2 separate regions of the Homo sapiens genome follow, and region 2 is linked to region 1. Evidence: fine-mapped expression QTL. A gene starts in region 1. The other region holds a variant in brackets. All regions are shown on one strand. Distances are from middle to middle.

Region 1 (15,249 bases):
CAGTAAAAACCAGCAATGTCTGGAGCCAGAGTTAAGGAAGTTGTGGAGTAACAAACAAGTTAAAACATTATTTCTGAGGAGGTACACTGGTAAGATTTTTTTTTTCTTTTTCTTTTTTTTTTTGAGATGGAGTCTCACTCTGTCCACCCAGGCTGGAGTTCAGTGGCGCAATCTCAGCTCACTGCAACCTCCGCCTCCTGGGTTCAAGCGATTCTCCTGCCTCAGCCTCCCAAGTAGCTGGGATTACAGGCGCCCGCCACCACGCCCGGCTAATTTTTTTTTTTGTATTTTTAGTAGAGACGAGGTTTCAGCGTGTTGGCCAGGCTGGTCTCCAACTCCTGACCTCAAGTGATCCGCCCGCTTCAACCTCCCTTTTACCAGGGCTACTTTTTTTTTTAACTTGTTTCATGGAAAATTTCAGACGTGTACAAAAATAGTAAAATGCATTTTCAGGCATCACCAAGCCACTCTGACAGTTTTATTTTCTTGGAATGCTCTTCCTCTAGACATAGTCACAAGGCTGACTTCCTCACACCTTTCAGAATTTAACTCAAATGACATTTCAGAGAGGTCTTCTCTGACTACTCTATTTAACACTGCACCTCAACACTCCTTCTGCCTCTTCCCTTTCCTGTTTTTCACCATAACTTTGATCACCTAACATTTTATAATTTTTTACATGTTTTTTTCTGATCTGTTCACAATCTAATAAACTACATGAAGGCAAGGATTAACAAATGTTTTCTTAACTGATATGTCCTAGTACCTAGAACAATTCCTGATACATAGAAGGGCTTAACAGTCAATGAGTGAATGAATATTAATATGGGGAGTTGTTAAAAAATAGAAAAATAGGAAGCGGCCCCGTGGCCGGAAGTGGGCCTAGAGCGCCGCAGCCCAAGATGTAGCTGGCCGTGGATGAGATGTTTCCAAGGGCGCCGGGCCCTACGTGGACCTGGACGAGGCGGGAGGCAGCACCAGGTTCTTGATGGACTTGGCAACTAATGAAAAGGCTGTTCATGTAGACTTTTTAAATGGTTTTGAAGATCTCTTTGATGATGATGACATCTAGTGAGATGCCGTCTGGCTGCAGGCGGGTCCAAGCCCTTGGTACAGAGCCGTGGTGTGAGCCTGCGCAGGGCAGTTTCAGGTGATTTTAAAGAACATATGGAAATACGTTGAAATTAGGACCTGGTTAACCAAGAAAGACAAAATTGTACTTGACCACCTGGATGAGGCTGTTAATCTCTGAACGTGACCAGGTTTTGCCTTCACTTCAATTAAAAGAAAGCAATGTCACATGCCAAAAAAAAAAAAATTACAACAGAGTTTGGACAGTATTATACGATGCTAGGGAAAAAACATGTGGATTGTGACAGAGGTTAAGCAGTCACCAAATATTCTCTACTCTGAATTTCCCTGCTAACTTGGTAGCTAGGCAGGGTTACAATTACTAACATGGCAAATAAATTGTGAGCGTAAGGGAAGTATGTCAATTATGGGATCAGGCAGTAAAAGTTCCATGCATGATTTTCCAGTCTCTTTTCACTATTCTGGTCACTAAAGATGTCATGTATTTCAGATTTTGACCAGAATAGGGTGGAACTGCCATTAGCCTCTATCCCTGAGTGATTACATGGAGAAAGTGCCCTAACAATTGGTGTAAGACAAAAAAAAACTTATTGTGTTAAGCCACAGAGATTTGGGAGGTTGTTTGTTATTGCAGACTTATTCTGACTATATGCAAATATATGTACACAAACCAGCATTTATTAAGCACGTACTATATGTCAGGCACAATGCTGAACACTTTACATATATTATTTTATTAAACCTTCATCAAACTCTGCAAGCCTGTACTATTACACTGACATGAGAAAACTGGGACAATGTGAGGACAAATCATTTGTCCAAGGTGGTCAGCTAAATGGAAGGGCTGAAAATGAAACCCAGGCAGTCTGAAGAAACATCTATCAAGCTGTTAACTGTGGTTGATATGGTTTGGCTCTGTGTCCCCACCCAAATCTCATCTCAAATTGCAACCCCCATGTGTTGAGGGAGGGACCTGGTGGGAGGTGATTGGACCATGAGGGCGGTTTCCCCCATGCTGTTCTTGTGATAGTGAGGGAGTTCTCACGAGAGCTGATGGTTTTGAAAGTGTTTGGCAGTTTCCTGTTTGTTCTGTCTCCCTCCTGCCTTGTGAAGGTGTGCCTTGCTTCCTCTCACCTTCCACCGTGACTGTAAGTTTCCTGAGGCCTCCCCAGCCATGTGGAACTGAATCAATTAAACCCTCTTTTGTTTATAAATTACCCAGTCTCAGGTAGTATCTTTATAGCAGTGTGAAAACGGACTAACACGGTGGTTATCTTTGAAGGCAGAAATAAGGAGACTGATCACTCTTTGTTCTATATTTCTGTAATATTTCAAGGTTGTTATTTTTTTTTTTTCAACCTCCACCTCCCAGGTTCAAGTGAATTCTCCTGCCTCAGCCTCTAGAGTAGCTGGGACTACAGGCGCGTACCACCACACCTGGCTAATTTTTGTATTTTTTAGTAGAGACAGAGTTTCACCATGTTGGCCAGGCTGGTCTCAAATTCCTGGCCTCAAGTGATCCGCCCACCTCGGCCTCTCAAAGTGCTGGGATTACAGGCGTGAGCTGTGGCCAGCTTTATTGAGTTCTTAAGTTCAAATGTCTATAAAGAAAAAAAGTGATATGGTTTGGCTCTGTGTCCCCACCCAAATCTCACCTTGAATTATAATAATCCCCACGTGTCATGGGAGGGACCCAGTGAGAGGTAACTGAATCATGGAGGTGGGTTTTCCCATGCTGTTCTCGTGATAGTGAATAAGTCTCATGAGATCTGATAGGTTTTTTTTTTTTTGAGATGGTGTCTCACTGTGTTGCCCATGCTGGAGTAGAGTGGCGCGATCTCGGCTCACTACAACCTCCACCTCCTGGGTTCAAGTGATTCTCCTGCCTCAGCCTCCTGAGTAGCTGGGATTACAGGCGCCCACCACCACACCTGGCTAATTTTTGTATTTTTAGTAGAGACAGGGTTTCTCCATGTTGGCCAGGCTGGTCTCGAACTCCTGAACTCAAGTGATTTGCCCACCTCAGCCTCCCAAAGTGCTGGGATTACAGGCATGAGCCACCATGCCTGGCCAATCTGATGGTTTTATACAGGGGAGTTCCCCTGCACATGCCCTCTTGCCTGCTGCCATGTAAGACACGACTTTGCTCCTTCTTTGCCTTCCACCATGATTGTGAGGCCTGCCCAGCCATGTGGAACTAGGAGTCCATTAAACCTCTTTCTTCCTCTCTTTCTGCCTTTCTTTCTTTCTTTCTTTTTTTTTTTTTTTTTTTTTTTTGAGACAGAGTCTCGCTCTGTTGCCCAGGCTGGAGTGCAGTGGCGCGATCTCCTCTCACTGCAAGCTCTGCCTCCCGGGTCCACGCCATTCTCTTGCCTCAGCCTCCCGAGTAGCTGGGACTACAGGCACCCACCACCACGCCTGGCTAATTTTTTGTATTTTTAGTACAGACGGGGTTTCACTGTGTTAGCCAGGATGGTCTCGATCTCCTGACCTTGTGATCCACCCGCCTCAGACTCCCAAAGTGCTGGGATTACAGGCATGAGCCACCGCACCCGGCCCCTCTTTCTTTTTTTTGATGGAATTTCACTCTTGTTGCCCAGGCTGGAGTGCAATGGCATGATCCCAGCTCACTTTTTTTTTTTTTTTTTTGACGGAATTTCAGTCTTGTCACCCAGCCTGGAGTGCAATGGCATGATCCTGGCTCACTGCAACTTCCGCCTCCCAGGTTCAAGCAATTCTCCTGTCTCAGCCTCCCGAGTAGCTGGGATTACAGGCACCCACCACCACGCCCGGTGAATTTTTGTATTTTTTTAGTAGAGATGGGGTTTCACTGTGTTGGCCAGGCTGGTCCTGAACTCCTGACCCCAGGTAATCCACCTGCCTCGGCCTCCCAAAGTGCTGGGATTACAGGCATGAGCACCTCTTTTTCTTTATAAATTACCCAGTTTCAGGTATGTCTTTATTAGCAGCATGAGAACAGGCACACAGCCTCACTCATAAAAAAAAGAAAAATTATAGCTGGGTACAGTGGCTCATGCCTATCATCCCAGCAGTTGGGAGGCTGAGGTGGGCACATGATGGCTTGAACTCATGGCTAGTCATGAGTTCGAGACTAGCCTGAGCAATGTGGTGAAACCTCATCTTTAATAAAGATACAAAAAAATTAGCTGGGTGTGGTGCTGCACGCCTGTAGTCCCAGTAACTCGGGAGGCTGAGGTGGGAGGATTGCTTGAGCCCAGAAGGCAGAGGTTGCAGTGAGCTGAGATTGTGTAGCCATATTCCAGCCTGGGCAACAGAGTGAGAACTTGTTTCAAAAAGAAAAGGAAAATTGCTTGAGTTTCACTTGCATTATGGAAATAATAGTGCCCACCTTATGTCACAGGATTCATATGAGGATCAAATGAAATAATTTATAAACATGTTTAGAGAATGTCTTCGCCTATTTTCTACTACTGTAATAGAATACCAAGACTGGGTAATTCATAATAAAAAGAAGCATATTTGGCTCACAGTTCTGGAGGCTGGGAAGTGCAAGAGCATAGTACCAGTATCTGTTGAGGGTCACCCCATGGCTGAAGGCATCACATGGAAGGAGTAGTGTAAGAGAAAGAAAGACAGGGAGGAGCTGAACTCATCCATTTTATCAGGAAACCACTCCCACGGTAACAGCATTAATCCATATTATGTGAGGGAAGAGCTCTCATGACCTAATCACCCCTTAAGGGCCTCACCCTCTTAATACTGTACCATGGCAATTAAATCTCAATGTGAGTTTTGGAGGGGACATTAAAACCATAACAGAGAATTATAACTTTAAGACCATATTAAGTATGTACCATATTACCTTTTTTTTTTTTTTGAGACAGAGTCTCGCTCTGTTGCCAGGCTGGAGTGCAGTGGTGCAATCTCGGCTCACTTAAACCTCCACCTCCTGGGTTCCAGTAATTCTCCTGCCTCAGCCTCCTGAGTAGCTGGGACTACAGGCGTGTGCCACTACGCCCAGCTAATTTTTGCATTTTTAGTAGAGACAGGATTTTACCATGTTGGCCAGGATGGTCTCGATCTCTTGACCTCATGATCCACCCACCTCAGCCTCCCAAAGTGCTGGAATGGTACAGGCGTGAGCCACCGTGCCTGGCCTGTACCATATTTCATCCAATCTTAGACACATCCATTGTATGACACGCCATTAATTTATATACCACTAAGAAAGAAACAATGTGGCTAATTTAAAATTATAATATCTTATCACTTGGAACTTGTAATACCTAGTGAAACAACTCTTCTATACTTAATTAGACATGGATTGTTATATCTAATTCCTGTGCAAACATTAAGAGGAAAATATAAATGAAATAAATTGGCTAAGGTATTCTTTTTTGGGGGGGGATGGAGTCTCGCTGTTGCCCAGGCTGGAGTGCAATGGCACAATCTCGGCTCACTGCAATCTCTGCCTCCCAGGTTTCAAGTGATTCTCCTGTCTCAGCCTCCCGAGTAGCTGGGACTACAGGCATGTGCCAGCACACCAGCTAATTTTTGTATTTTTTCTGAGAGACAGAGTTTCACTATGTTGGCCAGGCTGGTCTTGAACTCCTGACCTCGTGATCTGCCCGCCTTGGCCTCCCAAAGTGCTGGGATTACAGGTGTTAACCATGGTACCCGGCCAAGGTATTCTTAAACTTCTCATTCAGGCCAACGTTCCTGAATCACTTCTCAACTCAATCACTGACATCTATGTTTATCCACGTAATAGCCTTATTTGTGCCAATGAGAATATTGTTGTTGGTCAGACGCGGTGGCTCACACCTGTAATCTTAGCACTTTGGGAGGCCCAGGTGGGTGGATCACAAGGTCAGGAGTTCAAGACCAGCCTGGCCAACATGGTGAAACCCCATCTCTACTAAAAATACAAAAATTAGCTGGGTGTGGTAGTGCGCACCTGTAATTCCAGCTACTCAAGAGGCTGAGGCAGGAGAATTGCTTAATTGGAACCCAGGAGGTGGAGGTTGCAGTGAGCTGAGATCACACCACTGCACTCCAGCCTGGGCTACAGAGTAAGACTCCCTCTCAAAAAAAAAAAAAAAAAAAAAAAAAAAAAAAGAATAATGGTGAATGCAGCATTTCTTCTAAGAATCTAGAAAAATAAATAAAAATCAACCAAAGGACATACCAATGGTTCCATTAAACCAGAAGTTGAGACTGTCTCCTGGTTATCTTGGGCTCCTCATTGCCAAGTGAACCTACAGGCAAAGAAAGGGGTTAACTGTACTGGCCAGAGTAATCGACCTTGTCTATTAAGGAGAAATTGGGTTCTTATGGCCCAATGTGGGTAAGGAGGAGTATATGTGGAAAGTATGAGATCTCTGGGGGTACCTCTTACAAGCCTTGTGTTCTGTGATTTTAGAATTGCTTATGTTTCACTTTTTGCTAATTTATAAAACATACAGCAGTTTGTTGTACAGGATAAACTCACTGAAAACATTTGACCAGAAGTCTGATAAGAAAAACGGGGAGGGCCATATGCTTAAGATTAGTGGTGTGTACATAAGCATTTTTTTAAATTTTTGTTTGTTTTGAGACAGGGTCTTGCTCTGTGGCCCAGACTGGAGTGCAGTCTTGCAATCATGGCTCACAGCAGCCTCTGCCTCCCGGGCTCAGGTTATCCTCCTACCTCAGCCTCCTGAGTAGATGGGACTACAGGCACATGCCACCATGCCTGCCTAATTTTCAGTATTTTTTTTTGTAGAGACAGGTTTTTACCATGTTGCACAGACTGGTCTCAAACTCCTGGGCTCAAGAGATCCACTTGCTTAGGCCTCCCAAAATGTTGGAATTACAGGTGTGAGCCACTACGCCCAGCCATGAGTGTTTATTTTATTTATGCCTTACATATTCTTTTTTTTTTTTTTTTTTTTTTTAGAGACAGGGTCTTGCTCTATTGTCCAGGCTGGATTCAACCTTGTGGGCTCAAGTGATCCTCCTGCCTCAGCCTCTGGAGTAGCTGGGACTACGGATGCATACCACCACATTCTGCTCATGCCCTATATATTCTTTTGTATGTATGGGTGTAAAAACAGAGATAAAAACAGAGATATGGATGCCATCAACTCACTGATGTTTGAAGTTCTGAGAAAGCATAAATCAGTAAAGGAGTTAACTGAAATTTAAATCTCACAAATGAGCAAAAAATATGATTTCTGGTATATGATCTATGGGGTTCTTTGAATACTATTGCTTAAGAATAAAATACTTTGCGATTTCAATAAATTGAAAATTATGGTACAAGGCAAGGAAGGGGAGCTACTAGCTATGAGACTTTTGTAAATTATGTAACATCTCTGAACCTCTGTTTCCTCATCTGTTAAAATAGGGACAAAGTGCTACTTAGGTAAGACACTTCAGAAATGGGGCTCTGAAAAAAGTCACTTTTCTTCTCCTAACGAAAGGTTTCTAAACCTCAGCACTCCAGACATTTCAGGCCAGGTAATTCTTTGTTGTGCGGCGCTGTCCTGCGCACTGTAAGGCGTGAAGCAGTATTCCCGGCCTCTACTCACCTGTGCCCTCCACCATCTGTAGATTCCAATGACATCTCACCCCAGATGAGAGGCTGAAAATGATTCATACATTGCCAAATGTCTCCTGGGAGGCAAAACTGTTGCAGTGGAGAACCGCTGTCCTAACCCCATGTTCATCCAATAAAGGGTTTGAGGGACTGAGAAATGAAACAATAGTCCCGAAGGAGTAGAATGCAGTGGCCCCAACTCCTAGTTTCATGAAGGCAGGAACTGTGACTCAGAGGCCTGGGGATGCGGAGCTCTGAACTGCCAGCTGGTAGGAAAAGTCCTAATTAATGGATTGAATCATGAAGGGAGGGCAACAAGGAACAAATGGAGAGGGCCAGTGGCCGAGCCTTCGGTCTCAGGATCAAAGAGGCCCACACTGGTCACCACTTACGCTGCTGGGCTGACTGCTAGGTAGACGTATCTGCAGATAAACCGAGACAATGACGCGGTGGGAAAGGCCTTGGGGAGCGAGGAGGAGGAGCCGGGAGAGGCCAGCTTTGGTCCGGCGGCCACCGCCCCAGGCGCCGCGACTCGAGCCTCAGGCCCCGCCCCTCGCCCTCCTGGTCCCGCCCCCGCTCTCCGAGCCCCGCCCCTCGCCCTCCTGGTCCCGCCCCCGCTCTCCGGGCCCCGCCCCTCGCTCTCCGGGCCTGGGCGGGTGGCGCCTTGGCCTCCGCCTCCGCTCGCCTGCGCGCGGCCCTGCGTGAGGGGGCAGAGGCGAGGTGGAGGCGTTGGCGCTGCCACGTCTGGGCCGCGGTTCCCAACTGTGGCGCGGGCGGTGGAGGAGGAGGTGGGGCTGGCGCTGAAGCCGGATCCGGATCCGGTGCTGTGCACACTGGTGGGGGAGAGTCCGACGCGCCTGGCTAGGAGCGCCGACCGCAGGGCCTCTACGGGTGAGGAGGGACCGGGGCCGGGGCGCGAGAGCAGGACCGTGTGTCCTGGGGGCTGGGGCGGGCCTGCCCTCAGGTTTATCTAACAGGTGTGTCTGGTGCCCCGGCCAGGCCCCCGGGGGTGTTGTGTGGAGGAGCTGGGCGTTAATCCTCGCCAGCTGGGTGCACATGGTGTGGAGCGCGGTTCCCAGGAAGTTGAACGCACGCGCGCCTGGAGCAGAGGTTAAGGATGATGGCCAGCGGTCCGGCCATACGCTGGTCTTGGCCTGGCAGGGCTGGAACTGGGACTGGGGTCGGAACTTCGCTCCCCAGACTTTGGCGTGGGAAATGAGACAGTTGGTCGCGCTCTCTGCAGCCATCGGTTTTGAATGGGCACGAACGTCCCAGGCCCCTTCTCTTCTCCCATTCCCGGGCGCATCCCACGGTGGTCGGAGCCATTGAGGCAGCTGCTCCGAAGACCACCTCCGCACCGAGTAGGTCGGCGCTTTCCCCAGGGTACAGAGGGACATTCTTTGTCTCTTTTTCCTAGGCTCCTACCCCTAGAAATACCGAGTACTGTACTGTGATTTCTGTTGCGGGAGCTGATGTTTATGTAAGCCAAACTAATTTAAAATTTTCATACAAAATTGAACGGGCGATTATAGGATTCGTTTTGTTAGGATAATCCCTCATGAACGAATCCTAGAATGGATCTTAAGAAATTAATTTAGGCAGGATTTGCTAAATAGGGGAGAGAGCGCTAGCTGTATGGTATGATGATGTAAAGATTGGGGTCTGTTGAGGATGGTAATCGAGCTCAAGATGCGAAAACGAGGATTCTAGCCCCAAGTCACTTACTTGCTGTGTTACCTAAGGGGCAAGTCTTGGGAGTTCCAGGTGCTCCAGCTTCCTCATCGGTAGACTGGGAATAACGCCTAGATTGTAAAGGTCAAACTATCAGAAAATACTTTTGAACATTCATGCAGTTACACAATTTAATAAATATGGCCAGGTGTGTTAAAAATCTTTAACGGAATAGATTCAGAATGGATTCTTGTTATCGAAATTGTTATAAAATGAATATAAAGGAATCCGAAGTCCGCCCCTCCCCCATTCACCTGTACTTAGAAGGTTCCCCAGGAGCTCTTGAGAAATACATAGGCTGGTTTAGATTTGGCCTTAGATTGTATTTTTTAAAATTTGTAGATCGACTTTTAAAATCTTCATCTCCGGTGTCTATTACTTGTTGCTCTCCGTTGGTTGCTTCTAGCAGCAGCCTCTCTCCCCATTCGTATTCCAACCTGATACAGAGGCTCAGACGCCAAATAGTTGAAGTTTTGTTTAAAAAATATTCAATTGAGTGAAAAAATATTCAACTGATGTGATGACTAGTAAAAATGAATTTGGTGTATGCTTTCCGCGATATTGTGGCAGTTTGGGAATTTTTTTTTTTTTTTTTTTTTTTGTCCTTCTGGATTTTCTGAAATGTGACCTACAGGTAAGTCTTATTCGTTATTCATTCACTAGGCATTATTGGGCTAGGGTTAGGCTTAAACGGGTCTTCTAAACGCCTGCTAATTTAGCAGTTAATCAGAAAAGGTTCTGAGGAATACTTAAGGAGGATTAGTGTTTAAAGTTCATCTAAAAACTTTAAAGAACCTAATGATATGATGAGATTCCGCTTCACACAACTGTGCAATTTTATTCGCAGAAATTTCCTAGTTTTGCAATATCTGGGCACCTGAAGATGCTAAAAGATTATTTATATAAAATTACTTATTTAATTATGTTCTAAACCCCCTTGGAACCAGGTTTCAAGTCATATCTTGCTTCACTTTGCCCAGTACCTTAGTTGGGCACCAGCAGAATTTTACGGTTTGAGGACAGAGTGAGCTAAAGTGGGCCTTCAGTATGGCTCTGTTTTGTAGAATAGCTCATAAAAAAATTTTTGATGTTAATTTCTGATTGCCTGGTTAATAGATTCTTATTTCAATCTGTAATGCTTTGTTTAATGTATTTTGACTAGTCTGATTCCCATTTTCCAAATGTAGGTTCTAAGTGCTGCTTATGACTTAATTTTTAACCCTTGTACAACAGTAAGATAGGGAATTTATCTACTCTAGTGCATCTTCAGTGTAATGGTTAAGAGCAGAGTCTGAAGTCATACTACCTAGCAGGACTGGCTACGTAATCTGTGGTAATCCAAATTAAAATGCAGGGTTCCTTGTTAAAAAATTAAGAACTTCAAAACAGTGGCAGCAGGGTATCAAACTTAAGTGCAGGGCCCTGTGTAACGGCACAGGTCAGGGGCTTCTGAAGCTGGCCCTGTTGCCTCATTTTGAATCCTCACTCTGTTCTTATTGGCACTCTAACCTTGAGCAAGTTACTGTGCCTGCTTCCTTATCTGTAAAATTGGGATAATAATGATACATCGTTCATTGTATTTTTAAGAGTTAACATATAGAAAGTTTTCAATAAGTGTTAGCCAATATTATTTATTTTTATGATCATTCGTGGAAAAGGACTGTCTCATCAAAGAAAAGTACAAGAAAATATTAGTATTTCCTGGTTAAAATTCATTATTTAAGGGCTTCATAATCCTAGTTGTTTTCCTGTATACTTCTTCCCTCTCATGAAAATTATTAACCCTATTTTTCATGTTTTCTAGACCACATTTTTATTGTAAACACAGACAACTTTATAGGAAAAAGGAATCTAGTTAAATGTGGTTAAGGTTGATTTAAATTCTCTTTTGAGTTTTCTTTGAACTTTGTATTTACAACTATATGTTTAATAGCAAGACCAAAATGTTTAAATAGTGTGCTGCCTCGAGGAATTTACATTTTTAATACTGTACACATTTCACTTTATTAATACTTAGCCTGTTTATCTACATACCTGAAAAACAATGTTGCTACCTACCATTCAGATGAGATTACACACAAAAACCTCAAGGGTCCAATTTAGACAAAACACTAAAACACGTGGACTCAATTTCATCTATTAAAAACTTGTTTTGGCTGAGCATGCTGGTTCACACTTGTAATTCCAGAACTTTGGGAGGCTGAGGCTGGAGGATCACTTGAGGTCAGGAGTTCAAGACCAGCCTTTCCAACATGGCAAAGCCCCATCTCTACTAAAAATACAAAAATTAGCCAGGCGTGGTGGTATGAGCCTGTAGTCACAACTACTCTGGAGGCTGATGTGGGAAGCTGAGGTAGGAGGATCACTTGAGCCCAGGAGTTTGAGGCTGCAGTGAGCTATGATTGCACCACTGCACTCCAGCCTGGGCAACAGAGTAAAACCCTGTCTCAAAACAATAAAACAAAACAAAAAACCTATTTTGAATGGCTATTAAACTTGTTAAATTTGAAATGACTGCTTGATCATCACAATTTCTATATTTTCCTTAATATTGTTAGAACTGGGTATAGTGTATGCAGCATAATTTGAATCATTTTGTGTGTGTGTGGCTGGGGGGACCTCTCAGCAGTCTACATTATAAACTACGTTCTTTTCTACCCAAGAATGCTAACTTTTGGTATAACATAAACGTAAGAGCCTGTCATTCTTTTTGTAGTTCCTGTAACCAGCACAGTGCCTGATTCATGAATTAAAGGTAAAAAAAAATGAACAAGAATTTATAAACTTTAATTTTAAATTTATTGCTAACTAGCATATATCTTATTAAGTACTTGCAGTATTCCAGGCACTGCTAAGTGCATGACTGCATACAGTAATGCATTTAATTCTCCCAGTAATTTCATCTCCATTTTACAAATGAGGAAACTAGATTCTAAAAGCTTAATTACCGTAGTACATATCACACAGTTGACATTTGAACACCAGGTATGAATCCAAAGCTCATGCTCTTTCTATGCCTAGGTTTAAATCCTGGCTCCGCTAATTTTGTGACCTTGGGCAAGTTACTTAACATTTTCTCATCTGTTAAAATGTAGATAATAACCACTCCTAACCTGTAGGATGGTTGAAATAAATGAATTAGTAAAGCTCTTTCAACAGTCTGGCACATAAGAAGTGCTGAGCAAGTGTTAACTTCTGTTGTTACATCACATCACACTACCTTCCCATAACTAGTATATTGCAGCATTGCTTATATAGTTACATAGGATTATACAGGCAGAAACTTATTATCCATCTTTAAGGAAAAGTTAAGAATATTTGCCCTAAAGCATACTGTGACTTATGAAATAAGGAACAATTGGGGGTTAGGTTATTGGGCAAATTGTTCTCTCATTAAAATATGGTTTCTTTAACTGGATATAGAAATAAGTTGGGGACTGCTTTTTTTGGATCTCTAATCCAAAAATCCAAAACACTCCAAAATTTGAAACTTTATTGAGGGCCAACATGATGCCACAAGTGGAAAATTCCACATCTGGTATAATGTACAAAAACTTTTCCATGCACAAAATTATTTAAAATATTGTGTAAAATATTTGTGCTATCTGTATAAGATGTATATGAAACACAAATGAATTTTGACTTGGGTCCCATCCCCAAGATATCTCATTATGTATATGCAAATATCCCCAAATCTGAAAAAAAAAAAAAAAAAAAAAAAAAAAAAAAATCCAAAACCTGAAACATTTCTGGTCCCAAGCATTTTGGATAAGGAATACTCAACTTTTAATTGTTGGGAAGCATCTGTTTCTTTTAGCAATTCTGTGCTGCACAGAAGCCCCCTGGCCCCAGTTTTATGCTTTGTATGATTTGTTTTTCATCCTTCCTATCGTTACTTCTCTGTTATTTAGTCTCAGTTTTAAAACATTACAACTAGTGAGAACCTGCTCATTTCTAAATGTTCAAAAAAGAGGGGGAAATATCATGATCACTTTTCAATAGCATGAAAAACACCAGCTATTTTTAAGCTGCTTAGATGCAACTGAGAAACACTATACAGTTTAATTTTAATTTAATTTTTTTGAGACGGAGTTTCACTCTTGTTGCCCAGGCTGGAACGCAATGGTGTGATCTCAGCTCACTGCAGCCTCCACCTCCTGGGTTCAAGTGATTCTCCTGCCTCAGCCTCCCAAGTAGCTGGGATTACAGGTGGCCACCACCACACCTGGCTAATTTTGTATTTGTAGTAGAGACAGGGTTTCGCCATGTTGGTCAGGCCGGTCTTGACCTCCTGACCTCTGGTGATCTACCTGCCTCTGCCTCTCAAAGTGCTGGGATTAAAGGCACGAGCCACCATGCCTGGTCCATACCACAGATTTTTAGAAAATCTGCTGTGAAAACAAAATCCTGCAGTGTATATCTAGCATAGCCAAGGTAAAGTATTTCTGAGAATGCCAAAAAAAAAAATTAATTTGAGCCTGTTCATCAATTTTCTTCTATTCATGGTTCATTGAAAAAAAAAAAAAAAGCTACATGTGGCTAGACATGGTGGCTCACACCTGTAATCCCAGCACTTTGGGAGGCTGAGGCAGGCGAATCACCCGAGGTCAGGAATTTGAGACCAGCCTGGCTGACATGGCGAAACTCCGTCTCTACTAAAAATACAAAAAAAACTAGCTGGGCGTGGTGGCAGGTGCCTGTAATCCCAGCTACTCAGAAGGCTGAGGCAGGAGAATTGCTTAAACCTGGGAGGCGGAGGTTGTGGTGAGCCAAGATCACATCATTGCACTCCAGCCTGGGCAATAAGAGCGAAACTCCATCTCAAAAAAAAAAAAAGGCTACATGCCCAGTAAGTTTTTTGAGAGGGAATTTCACTCTTACATTGCCCAGGCTGGAGTGCAATGGCGCAATCTCAACTCACCACAACCTCTGCCTCCCAGGTTCTGAGGCGATTCTCCTGCCTCAGCCTCCCGAGTAGCTGGGATTACAGGCATGCGCCACCACGCCCGACTAATTTTGTATTTTTAGTAGAGATGGGGGTTTCTCCATGTTGGTCAGGCTGGTCTCGAACTCCCGACCTCAGGTGATCTGCCCACCTCGGCCTCCCAAAGTGTTGGTATTACAGGTGTGAGCCACCGTGCACAGCTGAAAGTTTTCTTTATTGGCAAGTAAGACTAAGAGATTACTTTTTTAAAAAAAATTTTTTTCCCCTTGCAATTTCCTGTTGAAACAGATGCCTTCTTGGCTCAATAATAAAATCCAAGAACATAATGTAAAAAATTTAAGAGCCCATGAAAAGTCAGCTATTCATTTAGTAGCACCAACCCAGAGGAAAAACATGTTTTAAAAGACCTGATAATAGCCGGGCGCAGTGGCTCACGCCTGTAATCCCAGCACTTTGGGAGGCCGAGGCGGGCAGATCACCTGAGGTCGGGAGTTTGAGACCAGCCTGGCTAACACGGCGAAATCCCGTCTCTATTAAAAATACAAAAAAATTAGCCGGGCGTGGTGTCACGTGCCTATAATCCCAGATACTCAGGAGGCTGAAAGAGGAGAATCACTTGAACCCAGAAGGCAGAGGTTGCAGTGAGCCGGGATCACGCCTCTGCACTCCAGCCTGGGCAACAGAGTGAGACTGTCTGAAAAAAAAAAAAAAAAAAAGACTTGATAATAAATGGGATTTTATAGTTTAAAACTTACTAATTTAGTCACTTAGCCATTTTTTTATCTGATAGTAGGCATGATTTTTCTATTTATCTGTAGTTGTGGAATTTAATGTTAGATTCAGGCTGGGTTGCAGTAAAATATCTCGCATATGTGCTAAAGAATGCTTCTAATTGCATTAATTTATATTAACTTTCTCA
Region 2 (15,249 bases), 55 kb after region 1:
ACCCGGGAGGTGGACGTTGCGGTGAGCCGAGATCGTGCCATTGCACTCTAGCCTGGGCAACAAGAGCGAAACTCTGTTTCAAAAAAAAAAAAAACAAAAAAAAAACCAAGAGAAAGTGACTCATTAAGCACATACACCTATTACTACGTTCCTCTTTCTAATTTCCCATCGTTTTAAGATCCAAGATTAACCTTAAATATTTAAAATAATTATTTAAAATACATAATGATGAACCTACAGATCATGAAATCAGCAGGTCTCAAATCCTATAAACTAAGGTTCTTATTATGATAATAACATGGGTTGGTTTGAACAAAGAAAAGGTTGCCATACCTGCATCTCTCGTCTCATAGGGTAGGTCCACTCCTGGGAAGGAAAACATAAGAATAAAAGTAGATAACATTTAAAAAGTCACCCAATTAAAGGCTAAAGATGTGACACACAAGTATGTAGATTTTTTAAAGTTACATTATACTTTAAGAACATTTTATTAAAATAGCAGACTTGGTTTCACAAACATCTGAAAATTGAAGTGACAAGAAACAAAGCTTAAAGCATTCTTTAAATAACTAGGCTTCCAGAATTGTTATGTTACTTCATAAAATGGATGAAATTACTCATTAAACTTAAGAATAGAATAGATATTCCAGAAGATTCTCCCAAAACTGATCTTCTAAGTCAGAGATGCCAATAGATTTTTTTTGTTTCTCATGCCAACTCTAATCAACTGACAGCAGATACCTAAAACACTGTGTGGTCCAAGACAGGAAGAAGAGTGTCTGATCAACAAATAATATCTGAAATGGATAAAAGAAGAATGCTATGTCATACGTACTTGCCATCTCTGATCTAAAATGCCAAATGCTTATCAAAGAGCCTTTCCTTCATCTCACTTGGGCCTAACATTCTTGTCTAGTTCAATTATTTTAACACATATCACAAAACATAAGAGACTTCATTTTGTCTTTGGAATGCAGACCAATATAAAGAAGCTGTAAAACAACACAAAATGTCAATGGTAAAAGATAAAAAATATTTTAAAACTTAGAAAAAAAGTATAGTGAATTGAAATGAAGAATCGAAATAGACTAAAAGGCCAGGCTCTGTGGCTCATGTCTGTAATCCCAGCACTTTGGGATGCCGAGGCAGGCAGATTGCTTGAGCTCAGGAGTTTGAGACCAGCCTGGGAAACAGGGTGAAACCCCTTCTCTACTAAAAATACAAAAAAATTCGTTGGGCATGGTGGAGCCTGCCTGTAATCCCATCTACACAGGAGGCTGAGGTGGGAAGATCGCTTGAGCCTGGGAGGCAGAGGTTGCAATGAGCTGAGATCACCCCACCACTCCAGCTAGGGTGACAGACTGAGACCCCGTCTAAAAAAATACTATAGTACAGATAGTCCTCATTTGTCAGTGGGTTGACTGCATTCCAAAAGTTTCTAAGTTGGTTGCTTAAAACTCAGAATTATTATTAGTAATTAGGTTTCTGAAGTAGTCTGGAAAATATTTTTTTAACCTTTTATTTTGAAACAATTTTAGGATTATAGAAAAGTTGCAAAAATAGTACAAGGAATTCCATTTACCCTTCACCCAGATTCTCTAAGTCAGAAAAGTATTTTTTTTATTTTTTTATTTTTTGAGACCGAGTCTTACACTGTCATCCAGGTTGGAGTGCAGTGGCGCGATCTCGGCTCAATGCAAGCTCCGTCTCCCGGGTTCACACCATTCTCCTGCCTCAGCCTCCCGAGTAGCTGGGACTACAGGCACCCACCACCACGCCATAATTTTTTTGTGTGCTTTTAGTAGAGACGGGGTTTCACCGTGTTAGCCAAGATGGTCTTGATCTCCTGACCTCGTGATCTGCCCGCCTCGGCCTCCCAAAGTGCTGGGATTTCGGGAGTGAGCTACTGCCCCCGGCCCAGAAAAGTATTTTTAACACAGAAGGTAGAAATAGTATACATCTATAATGAAAAGAGAGAATAATAATCCTACAATGAGAGACAGGTTTTTTTTTTTAACTAAGAGAAACAGAAAACATTTTTATTTTTAATCTTGAAAACTGTTCTCAGCAATATAGTAGTAGACTATAAACCCCGAGTAATGACAGTTTAAAAAAATCAAAAAGCCGGGCGCGGTGGCTCACACCTGTAATCCCAGCACTTTGGGAGGCTGAGGCGGGTGGATCACCTGAGGTTAGGAATTTGAGACCAGCCTGGCCAACATGGTGAAACTCCATCTCTACTAAAAATACAAAAATTAGCCAGGCATGGTGGCGGGAGCCTGTAATCCCAGCTACTTGGGAGGCTGAGGCAGGAGAATCGCTTGAACCTGGAAGCGGAGGTTGCAGTGAGCTGAGATCGTGGCATTGCACTCCAGCCTAGGCAACATCAGTGAAACTCCATCTCAAAAAAAAAAAAAAAATCAAAAGATTCATAGCAATCAATCAGAAGGAGGCCAGTTATCCTGAGCCAGCATAAGGAAGTCCCCTGTGTTTTAATACTATAAAGAAACTAACTTTGAAATGACCAATCCACTTTTTGTTTCATTTCTGCTTTATTTAGCTAGATTTTGCCTATAAATTCAACTTCCTCTGCTCAGCACACTGAAATGCCTTTTCTAAATCTTTTGATGACACACTGCCTGATTCATGAACCACTAATAAAAGTGAGTTAGATTTTTAAGCTAAATTTGTTGTAATTTTGTCTTTTGACACAGGGTAGGCCTATGTTTGGCTTTACTAGATACTGCCAAAAGTTTTGTAAAACCACTGTACACTCCCACCAGCAATGTATGGGACTTCTAGTTGTTCTACATCTTCACTACGGCCTTATTTTAAGTGGAAACGTACTTGTAAACATAAGACAAAGTCTATGATCTGCTCAAAGTCGAACTCAGATCAAGACCAAAAAGCTAGAACTCCCAAAGGCAACATCCTCAGTGAAAGATAAACTAGGGAAAGAAAGAAAAACAAAAACTCAACTCATCCCACAGAAGTGAGTACTCTTGTCCTTCCTAGCTTTGGCTCTGGGTAGGTATTGGTAGTGGTGGAGTGGGGTCTTCCTAACCACAATCTGGCATCCACTCAAGTTTGGGGTTAGAATTCAGTTACTTTTGTGAGGCCAAGTGAGAATTTAATGTAAGTGGTCCTGGGTAGATTGCATCCCTGGATTCCTGGAAGAAGCAAATGCATATTCTCTAGAAAAACACACCTTAAACCTAGATCAGAAATAATTCACACAGATAAAGTCCCAACAAGCTCACAATCAAAAACTAATTTAAAAACAGGAAATGAGCCACCACAGGAAGCAGAAACAACTGAGTTACACTTACAAAACTGCAGATATTATAAGCAATAACGAAAAATATAAAAAATTTAAAGAAATTAGAGTATCAAAATATGACCAGACTAAGAAATTGATTTTTAAAAACACAGAATATGTAGAAATAAGAAGTATAATTGAAATTAAAAATCAGTGAATAGGCCAGGTGCGGTGGCTTACACCTGTAAATTACCAAGTACTTTGGGAGACTGAGGTAGGCGGATCACTTGAGCTCAGAAGTTTACCAGCTTGGGCAACATGGTGAAACCCTGTCTCTACTAAAAATATAAAAATTAGCCAGGCATGGAGGTGGCACGCCTGTAGTCCCAGCTACCCGGGAGGCTGAGGCAGGAGAGTTGCTTGAATCTGGGAGGTGGAAGCTGCAGTGAGCCGAGATTGCACCACTGCACTCCAGCCTGGGTGACAGAGTGAGACTCCATCTCTCATACACACACACACGAAACTCAAAAGTAAAATCAAAAGATATCATTACCTACCATTAGAATGGTTAAAGTTAAAAAAATTGACAACACCAAATGCTGGTGATGATGTGGAGCAACTGGGACTCTCACACATTGCTGGTGGGAATGTAAAATGAAATGGTAAACATACACCTACCCTATTATAATATCTAGCCATTCCACTCCTAGGCTTTACCAAAAAAAAAATATATATATATATATATATAAAAACATATATCCACACAAAGACTTATACATGAATATTTATAGCAGCTTTATTTATTGTAGTCTCAAAGAACTCAAATGTCTATGGTCTCTTCATACAAAGGAATAGTAGTACTCAGGGATAAAAGTCTACGAAGTACTCATAAACACAACAACATGGATGAATTTCATTGACATTATGCTCAGTGAAGAAAGCCACACACAAAAGAGTCCATTTGCATGATTCCATTTGTATCAAGTTCAAGAGCAAGGAAAACTAATCTATGTTGATAGAAATCTGGTTTCCTATTGTGGAATGGGAGAGGAAATGCCTGGAAATAGATGTAACCTTCTATGCTAATAGAATGTTCTTGTATCTTGATGGGGTGGATTAGTGTATGTTCATCAAAACTCAATGAACTGCACACTTACTATTTGTACATTACACTATATAAATTTTACCTTTATTAAAAAAGATCAACTAGACAAAAGACAGATTACACACAAAGGAAGGACAATCAGATGGACACTGACTTCTCAATTGCATGAACAGAAGCCAGAGGACACAAATAATTCATTCATAGTGGCAGGACAAAAACAACTGTTAATTAAGAATATATGCTCGGAAAAATATCTTTAAAGAAAAAAAGTTAAAATGTTCTTTGAAGAAGGGATACTATCACTGTCTATTTTAGTCATAGAGAACCTAAGTAACTTGATTTTGGATCCAGAGAGTCTGAACCCAGAGTTCATTCTCTGAATCAATATACTATACAGTCTTTCAATGTAAGAATGAACTTTACGGCAAACATACAGTTACAATTAAACAAATATTGGCTGCATAAAATAATGACTAATTTATGGATATTAACAGAATAGAAATAAAGCATGTAATTTCTAAGCCAGCAATGAGGGAAATGTAATTGTTTACTAGATACTTTTTTTTTCTTTTTGAGACGGAGTCTCGCTCTGTCGCCTAGGCTGGAGTGCAATGCAGTGGCACGATCTCAGCTCACTGCAACCTCCGCTTCCCAGGTTCAAGCAATTATCTGCCTCAGCCTCCTGAGTAGCTGGGATTACAAGCGCCCACCACCAAACCTGGCTAATTTTTGTATTTTTAGTAGAGATGGGGTTTCACCATCTTGGCCAGGTTGGTCTTGAACTCCTGACCTCATGATCCACCTGCCTCGGCCTCTCAAAGTGCTGGGATTACAGGCATGAGCCACCGCGCCCAGCCTAGATTCTTTAACTTACCAATGTGTTATGGTAATCTTTTTATATATGAGTTTTTTAGCCAGGTATGGTAGCTCACACCTGCAATCCCAGCCCTTTGGAAGGCTGGGGCAGGAGGATAGCTTGAGCCCGAGTTCAAGACCAGCCTGGGCAATATAGGGAGACCTCATCTCTACAAAAATTAAAAAATTAGCCAGGTGCGGTGGTGGTGCATGACTGAGGTCCTAGCTACTTGGGAGGCTGAGGCAGGAAGATCACTCGGGCTTGGGAGGTCGAGGCTGCAGTGAGTCATCATGGTGCCATTGCACTCCAGCCTGGGCAACAGAGACAGACCCTATCTCAACGAAAAAAAAAAAAAAAAAAAAAAAGAAAGAAAGGAAAAAGAAAACAGTTTTTAAAGACTTTAGGCCAAATACTCTTTTTAGTCATGGTACCCCTAATGATAAGCACAGTGCCTGACACAGAATAAGCACAAAATAGATGCATTTCAGAGATCTACTGCACTAAATGTTATTGACTTTTTTCTTTTTAAAAGATTCTCAAGTAGTCTAACAGCCAGCCTTATCTTCCTGAAGCAACTTGTCAGAGCTGTGATAAAGAAGAAAATCAATTAAAGAAATGAGTACTTTTGAATTTATCTAAAGTGAAATCACTAAATTTTGTGTAATTAAAGAAAAAAAAACAGGGCAACACATATCAAGGAATGGTGTAAATATATTCTGGGAAATACTTGTGTAAGGCAAGGAAGACTTTCCCTCTACCATCAGGATTCGATAACAGTCTATGAAATAAACTAAATGGAGAAAATGTATACAAATTTATTATGTGTATGGGAGTATCACAGGAAAGAAAAGTGTATACCAAAAAAAAAAAAGTGGTATTTTTAAAAAGTGTATACCAAAAACAAACAAAATCCGTGATATTTCAAACCAGTCTATGAAATAAACTAAACGGAGAAAAGGTATACAGATTCATTATGTGCATGGGGGTATCACAGGAAAGAAACGTGTATACAAAAAAAAAAAAAGTGATATTTAGGAGTTTATATACCCTTTATATAGCATGGGGGTAGAGGTATACAGGCAATTTAGAAGAACAATTCTGGAGAAAGATAAATGGGCCCTTAGAATAATAATAGATGATACTTTGTGTCAGTTTGTCTGGGTGTGGTGCTGACTTTTACTCTCCTCTCCAGTGATAAGAGACAATCTTCCCTGGTTGATCAAACTCCCTAGGAGCAAACTGAGCTTCTTTTGGAGGATCTGTCCTTAGGTAGGTAACAGGAGTTCAGAGAAAGTGTTTCTTTGCATTTGCTACTTTGCAAGTGTTTCCAACTTAAAGTAATCAATATATCAAGGTGTCATATTTTGGAGTGGCATTTCCTCAACACCTTCATTTGGCAATATGCCAAAAGACACTCAAAGCCACTGAAGTATCAATTTTATCAAAAAAATTCTTTAGGGAGAAACAGTATTTTCACTGGTTACTAATTTAAACAATTTTTATATTAAAACAAACAGGCACATATGGGATAGAATGCAAAATTTACCTGAACCTTTTAGCAAAACAAGAGGCTTCAAAGAACTTTTGAGCTTTCCATAAGGTTATATGTAATACAACATGAAAGACTCTCTTGAGATATATATATATATGGAAGATATTATAAGAGGGAAAAGCAAGTTGTATAGTAGGAGGGAATGAAAAATTATTCCTAGTCACAGGACAGATAAGAAGCCTTCTTCAGAGAACATTAGTAATTACTGCAATAGGTATGGATCCTTTGAAACCTAGAAAGCTTTCTCTCACAGAAAAGTTCATTTGGAACTATTCCTGGTGTTATCATCAGATGCTGATCTCAGAATCCACCTTCTTTGCTGCCCTAACCCAGATTACCACCTACAGAACAAACCTTAAACCTGCCTGTTGGCCGGGCACAGTGGCTCACGCCTGTAATCCCAGCACTTTGGGAGGCCAAGGAGGGTGGATCACAGGGTCAGGAGATCGAGACCATCCTGGCTAACATGGTTGACACCCCGTCTCTACCAAAAATACAAAAAATTAGCCGGGCATGGTGGCGGGCGCCTGTAGTCCCAGCTACTCGGGAGGCTGAGGCAGGAGAATGGCGTGAACCCGGGAGGCGGAGCTTGCAGTGAGTTGAGATCCTGCCACTGCACTCCAACCTGTTAAAACAAACAAACAAACAAAAAAACCCTGCCTGTCTATGGATCTTACTAACCAAGATTTTAAGTCTGAATGCTCATAGTCTTCTTCTACCACACATCCGTCTGAACACACGTCTAATAACCAAGTCTTGCCACTATCACACTTAATTCTTAATCTCAGCCTGCTCACACTACTCCTGAAATCTATCATTTTAGAAACCGTGGTATTAATGGAGGCATCTCCATATCACCAGCAATGATCTATTTTAAGTTACTATTGTAATTAATTAGTAGAAATCAATTTCCCAAACTTTATGAGTAGCCAAGCAGTTCAACCACATTAACCAAACCAAGGCAAGCCAGATAAACCAAAATAACCCTCTATTGTGAAACACCATGATTCTGAGACAAATTAATTCACAAGTGAAAATCTTTCGATCAACATGAGGTAGAAAGTACCACATGTTAAAACATCCTTCCGAATTATCTCCTTCCTTTCCATAAAAATGATCTATAAAACTGCATTTGGATAGAGAAAAGTTACAAAAATGTTCAAAGACCCTCAAATAAACACATCAATGAAGGATATAGACTGTAACCATTAGATAAAATAATTCTTATATGCATTGAAATATGAAATATGAACTTTTACAAATACAGTAGTCCCCCCTTATCCACAGGGGATATGTTCATACATTTGAGGATAGTGCTGAATCCTATATACACAATACTAAAATAAAACACAAATTGTACATAGGCTGGAGGTGGGGGGCAACAGTTTGGGGAAGAAAAAAAACATCAGAATACTAGACTTGCACTGGGACATTCCACAAAACAGAAAAGTTAGTATTGCACTTTCTCTCCTAGAAAAAATAGGTAAATCCCTCCAAAGTCCTTTTCCTTTCATTCCCACACCAAGCTTGAGCTTTGCTTAAATCAAAGGAGAAAAGAAAATGTTTCACTCAAATAAAAAGAGAAGGTGGGCAGGGACTGGAGGGGCAGAAGAGTACTCAAGTAAGATATTTTCTAAACCAGCAATTTTTAAACCTGACTGAACATTAGAATCATCTAGCTTCATTCAGATAAATTAAACTACAATAGGTGCTGGTAGGGTCCA[C/G]GCATCAGTATTTTTAAAAAATTCCTTACTCTAGAGTAAGGGTTAAAAAGCACCATTCTAAATAAAGGAGCTAGAAAAGGAATCCTCAGCCATGTATGTTAAATAATTCCTATCTTTGATCCTGTACTACGGGATTCACAAGAAAAATGGAAAGGGAAACATGGAAAGTTGCTAAACTGCAATGGAAATAAATATTTCACTTTCTGTCAGAAGAGAAGATAAAACATTAACTTTTAAATTATAAAACCAATAGCCCCAGCTACAACCAATTTGCTTAAAAATTGGTACTATCAGCTACTCCTTCTTCCTAATATCTAAGCTCTCTTATGAAAGGTTCAGTCTAAATGGAAAATAGACAATGACCAAAAATTGTTAAATGTTACAAAGGTAAGTATTAAAGTACCAAGTGCCATAGTAGCTGGGGAATTGAACCAGTCTAGAGGATGAGGAAAGGAGTTAGAGAAACTGGCAAACAGGAAAAGCTTCTCTGAAGAAATGTTGCCTAAAGTGGGATCTAACCCAAGGGTAAGCAGTTAATTAGGTGAGGGTAAGGAAGGTGCTGGCAGCCAAGGCAGGGGAAAATAGCAAACATAAAGGCTCTGAAGGCGGGGGGTGGAAATTAAAGCATTCCAGGAACTGAGAGAAGATAAATATGGCTAGGGCTTACAGAGAAAGGAGCAAGAAGAGTAGCTCATAATGAGGTTAGAGAGGTATGCAGATGTCAGACCATACAGGACCCTGGAAATAATGTCAAGGGTTTAAATTTCATCTTCAAAACAATGGAAATTCATGAAAAAGTTTTAAACAAAAAAAGTAACAATCTTTTCACAAACTGACTGATCTAAATTTTTGTTAGCACTGTCCTATACAAAGAATACCAATATTTCAAGAAACGTGAAAGTAATATTCTTGTAGAGGTGACAGAATCATCAACCTATCATAGCTTGATCACATTAACATTAAAAGCATTCCCTGAACTCTCTGCTTGAATTCAGTTTTTATTAAATTTGGTCTGTAATTTGGATTTCCAGGTAGTGCTCCCTGTGTCAAAGAAACAATGCTGGCTGATCACTCTAACTACTTAAGACCATTTGACACTTTACATTATCTCACTGGAGATTAGAAAATTAACAGTGCTTATTAGTCAGTTTATTATGAATAACTATATGCTCCTATTTAATAGTTTATTTATGTGGCCCCTATGTATAGTTTTATCAGCCCAGAAAGTACCCTCTACCTGTGGAAATGTTCCTATGGTTTTGGTGGGAGGGCTACCAACAATAAACTTCACTCCTCTAGCCAAGGAATTAGGGATATGACCTAGATGGGGCCCCTCATTGTATCTGCCCTTTCCTGGCTACAGTGACTGATCCAAAGTGTGGGAACATGAATTAAATTGGGCAATTCCTCTAGATTTCAAACACAGAAGCTGGAAGTGTTCAGTTTTATTCCTCAATAACCAAGCTCATAAAGGTGTGACCCCAGATGGCCAAGCTTCACATCTTGGAGAAGCCAGAGAGAAAGCAGAGACTCCGAGAGAAAGTAGAGATAAGAACTCATGAGAGACAAAGGCAGTTCTGATGCTTTATAATACCTGGGTTTGGTCAAATCCTTGAAACTAGCTGCACCACTACCCTTCTGGATTTAATTACTTTTTTTTTTTTTGAGATGGAGTCTCGCTCTGTCTCCCAGGCTGGAGTGCAGTGGCTAGATCTCGGCTCACTGCAAGCTCCGCCTCCCGGGTTCATGCCATTCTCCTGCCTCAGCCTCCCAAGTAGCTGGGACTACAGGCGCCCGCCACCATACCTGGCTAATTTTTTTTTAAGTAGAGACGGGGTTTTACCGTGTTAGCCAGGATGGTCTTGATCTCCTGACCTCGTGATCCGTCCGCCTCGGCCTCCCAAAGTGCTGGGATTACAGGCGTGAGCCACCACGCCCGGCCGGATTTAATTACTTCTTCTTTTTCTTAAATTCGTTTTTGTTGCTTGCAACCAAAAGATACCAAACATGCAATATTAAGAAATACGGAACGAATTGGCTTTCAGCAGACAATACTTGCATCATTATCCACTAGCTTTAACCATTACCTCTGTCCCTGTGATATAATATGAAATACATGGTCTTTCTCTCCAGTTCCTGTCACAGTCCTCCTAAAACTCTTGGAATTTTCTAATAGGAGTGTCTTTGGTTATTTATGAGCCACTATTTTTGATCAAACCTGATTATGCTAATGAAGTGATTTAGGGTGGGGCCAGTCACCAGAAAGACCATGTGACAAGAGGGTTGAACTCTCAGCCTCACACACACACACACCTCTATGGGAGGGGATGGAGATGAAGTTCTATAAAAACCGTTGAATAAGATTTGTTGAGCTTCTGGATGAAAACACTGGAGGTGCTAGTGAGGCAGGTGAATAGGGTCTGGAGGCAGGGAATCTAAGGCTGTTTCACCCCGACTTCCCAGAACTAACTTGAAGGGAAAACCCTAACTTTCCACGCCTAAGTAACAAAAGGACCAGAGGCTACTCCCGTTGCAAACCACCTACCTTTTCTGCACAGTAGACGGGAAATTGGCTGTCCTCAACAAATCAGACTGACTGCGGGTGGAATCTTCGTTTGCAACTTTGTAACTTCACTCTAGCCACTGAATGGTCGCTGTCCACAACCAAGCGGACTGATGTGGGGGTGGGTCTGGCAACCAATCAGACCAATTGCAAGCCACCTCTTCATTTACATGAGGTGAGCATGGAATGGCCAATGGGAAAGTTCTAGGGGGTATTTGGACCCAAGAAGATTCGGTAAAGCAGCGGGGGTCGGGGGGGAGTGCTGCTAGGGCAGCTCCCACACTGTGGAGTGTACTTTTGTTTTCAATAAATCCCTGCTTTTGTTCTTTTGTTGCTTCATTCTTTCTTTGCTTGGAGTTTTGTCCAATTCTTTGTTCAAAACGCCAAGAACCTGGACAGCTTGCAATCATGACTCTACTGGTGACACTGGGATGGTGGTGTGCCCCTTCCCCCATACCTTGCCCTATTCATCTCTTCCTACTGGCTGTTCACTGATCTTTTGTAGTATCCTTTATAATAAACCCGTAAATGTACTTCCCTGAGTCCTGTAAGTCACTCTAGCAAGTTAACTGAACCAAGGAGGGAGTAACGGGAACCCTGATTTACAGTCAGTCAGGAGTGTATAGGTGACAACCTACTACTTGTGATTACCATCTGAGGTTGGGGGCAGCCTTGCGGGACTGAGCCATTAACCTGTGGGATCTGACTAACTTCAGGTACATATGTGTCAGAATTGAATTATGGGACATTCAGTTCATGCCTGCTGGAAAACTGCTTGGTATGGAAAAACCCCCACACATCTGGTAGCATAAAAAAAAGAGTGTGTTTTCAAGTCCCACACAGAAAAGACAGGTATATATTCCCAGCAAGAATTTATCAGTTTTGCAGGAATAAGGCATACATAATGATATACACAGTAACAGATTAAATGCAAAGTCCGGGAAAATTTTAAACTAGAATTTTTAAGATTAGGGCAGGGAAGAATTGAAGTGTATTAAAAAGAACAATGAATTAGGAGGCCGAGGTCCTTCTGTGTCTTGTGCTACTGTGTTGTTAATTTGGCACATCACTTATTTTCAGTAAGGTACAATTTCTTCACCTGGAATGTGGGACTCCTCTACATTATTTGTAAGGTTGCTTGCAGTTAAGTGCTGAAATTACTGAATCATTTTGAGGATATGAAAGCATACTCCTTCGCGGTGGCTCAAGCCTGTAATCCCAGCACTTTGGGAGGCCGAGGCAGGCGGATCACTTGAGGTCTGGCGTTCCAGACCAGCAGGGCCAACATGGTGAAACCCCGTCTCTACTAAAAGTACAAAAATTAGACGGGAGTGGTGGCGGGCGCCTGTAATCCCAGCTACTCAGGCGGCTGAGGCAGGAGAATCTTTTGAACGTGGGAGGCGGAGGTTGCAGTGAGCGGAGATCACGCCACTGCATTCCAGCCTGGGCAACAAGAGTGAAACTCCGTCTCAAAAAAATAAATAAATAAATAAAAGCATACTCTTCATTCACATTATTGTATGTTAAGTATAAATTCATTTTTATAACTAGCCTAAATATGACCTCCTGTTTTCTAAGAGTATATTGGCCGGGCGCGGTAGCTCACGCCTGTAATCCCTGCACTTTGGGAGGCCAAGCCAGGCGGATCACAAGGTCAGGAGTTTGAGACCATCCTGGCCAACATGGTGAAACCCCGTCTCTACTAAAAATACAAAAAAATTAGCCCGGTGTGGTAGCGGGTGCCTGCAGTCCCAGCTACTCGGGAGGCTGAGGCGGGAGAATGGCGTGAACACGGGAGGCAGAGCTTGCAGTGAGCCCAGATCGCACCACTGCAAGATCATTCCAGCCTGGGCGACAGAGTGAGACTCTGTCTCAAAAAAAAAAAAAAAAAAGCTGGGCCTGGCGGTGCGCGCCTGTAATCCCCAGCTACTCAGGAGGCTTAGGCAGGAGAACTGTTTGAACCGGGACCCGAGGCAGAGGCTGCGGTGGGCTGAGACAGCGCCACTGCACTCCAGCCTGGGGCAACAAGAGTGAAACTCTGTGTCAAAAAAAAAAAAAAAAAAAAAACCATGAGTATATTCTTGGGCCAGGTGCAGTGGCTCACACCTGTAATCCCAACACTTTCGGAGGACAAGGCGGGAGGATCTTGAGGCCAAGAGTTCGAGACCAGCCTGGAGAAAAAACCCATCGCTACAAAAAAAAAAAAAAAGAAAAATTAGCCCGGCATGGTCCCAGCTACTCCAGAGGCTGAGGTGAAAGGATGGCTTGAGCATGGGAGTTCGAGACTGCAGTGAACCGAGATCACACCACTGCACTACATTTTGCAACAGTGATAGTCACAAACAAAGTCTCTACTCTTAAAACAAATGTAATTGTCAAGCATCAATACCACAAGAGAGCCCTCCAAACAAAAATGTGAACCTAGGCCGGGCGCGGTGGCTCATACCTGCAATTTCAGCACTTTGGGAGGCCGAGTCGGGCGGATCACAAGGTCAGGAGATCGAGACCACCCTGGCCAAAATGGTGAAACCCGTCTCCCCTAAAAACACAAAAATTAGCTGGGCGTGGTGGTGCGCGCCTGTAGTTCCAGCTACTCAGGAGGCTGAGGCAGGAGAATCGCTTGAACCCGGAAGGCGGAGGTTGCAGTGAGCCGAGATCGCGCCACATTGCACTCCAGCCTGGCGACAGAGCAAGACTCCGTCTCAAAAAAAAAAAAAAAAAAAAAGTGAACCTCCAATGAAGATATTCAATAGAATAAATATTCGGAATAAATTGAATGGTCTCCTAAAAATAGGGCTTTATTTTTCCCAACTACTTTAAAGGTATTTTTAACTAGCGATGTTAGATTTTCTTTCTTAATCCTACTAAAGTATAGCTGAGTATCTTCGTCTTGTTAATTTAGCCTCCAGAAAATTCTAATTTAGTAGTCTGCAATGCCGTAAAATGTTAAACTAGCAACAGATGAAAAAAAATCCGAGTAGAAACAGCAGGCAGGGATCTAAGGTGGAGTAAAAATAGCCACAAATTAGAAACCAGGAGAAAAGGTATATAGTATTTTACTTTCAATATTAATTTTCCTCCAAAGGTCAAGATTTCTGATTAAGAGTTCTCAGATTAAGATGAGCTAGCTTTGAGACACTTTGTTGTGCGGGTCATAGCTTTGTCTAAAAACAAACAAAAAACTTTGGGAAACTTTTCGAAGGCGCGCTTCCAAACTTCAGGCGCCGAGTCTATTTCACATGTGGGGCCATGTGTCCCACAAGTGAATCGTTTACACCACAGATATTCCTCAAAAGGAGACTAAACCAACTTCGCTCTCTTGTTACTTTGACAATAAAAGAGGAACCTTACTCCAGGTCAGTCCTGGATGCCAAGCCTAGGGACTAAGGGATTGCTTTTCCTCTTCTCAAATGTAAGTACACCAGACGCTGCCCCTCCGCGGGGTCTGGAGAGGACGAGCAACTCAGTGGGGATTGGAGCCGACCGCTCGGCTTCAGAGGTCCCGGGACGCCCTTAGGAGGCAGGGCGCCCGTACAGGTGGCGGCTAAGACGGTTGGGGACTGGGGTCGCCCCTCGGCCGGAGCCACAGGGAGAGGCCTGTGCGTGGCAGCCACGGGAGCGACTCACCTCGGCGTCTTCCTTGCACTGTGGAAGGGAAGGGAACTCCAGCTTCACGTCCTCCATGGTGCTGGCCCGCGGGCTGGTGGGTGGGGTGGGAGAGTGTTACACAGCCGGCCGACCCTCGGGCTGGCTGCGGCGGCGGAAGGAAGGAGGGCCGGCGGAGCGGAGGGCTGACAGGAGGGCGGCGGGATTACAACTAACACACGCAGACTACAGGGTCCCAGTGACTCCAGCAGCGGCGGCGGCGAAGACAGGGAAGAGGAGGGTCGGGCGTCTTACACCCGGCCGCCATGCCGCTGCCGTCTCCCTCCCCCAGAGTCTCCGTACCCCTCAGGCCGCCCAGGATCCAGCACAGGAACCAGCCCGACAACCGTCTCCCCGCCTCCTTCCCGCCCCCTCCACCCGCGTCGCCTCAGCCAATCCCAGCCCACGCTCGCCTTCTGCCCGCCCTCCGCCGCCGCCAGGTGTCAGCGCGCCACCGCCCTGCTCCGCCCCTTCGCTAGAGCGCAGACGCTTGGGGGTGGGGGGGGCGGAGCCTCGGATGCTGCTAGGCCACAGCTCACCCGGCG

The links. PIP is the estimated chance that this variant, and not a neighbour inherited with it, causes the effect. A credible set is the group of variants that fine-mapping cannot tell apart.
Region 2: its variant is the best candidate, but not a certain one, in a credible set for the expression of GNPNAT1 in whole blood (INTERVAL, PIP 0.66).

Annotation. Positions count from the first base shown.
Region 1 is chr14:52,784,724-52,799,972 of GRCh38, reverse strand. GNPNAT1 (glucosamine-phosphate N-acetyltransferase 1) reads left to right here and starts at 8,366. Exons shown (of 6, transcript NM_198066.4): 1 at 8,366-8,545. LOC105370500 (a long non-coding RNA gene) reads right to left here and starts at 8,185. Exons shown (of 3, transcript XR_943867.3): 1 at 7,647-8,185. It also overlaps the pseudogene LOC100288978. RefSeq lists enhancers at 7,744-8,258, 8,259-8,772, 8,880-8,969, 9,050-9,139 and silencers at 8,170-8,389, 8,490-8,569.
Region 2 is chr14:52,729,969-52,745,217 of GRCh38, reverse strand. It overlaps STYX (serine/threonine/tyrosine interacting protein), which reads right to left and starts at 15,052. Exons shown (of 11, transcript NM_145251.4): 1 at 14,687-15,052; 2 at 334-366. The coding sequence starts at 14,743. RefSeq lists an enhancer at 11,013-11,307 and silencers at 14,758-14,837, 14,908-15,249. The variant C/G (reference allele first, on the strand shown) is at 8,497.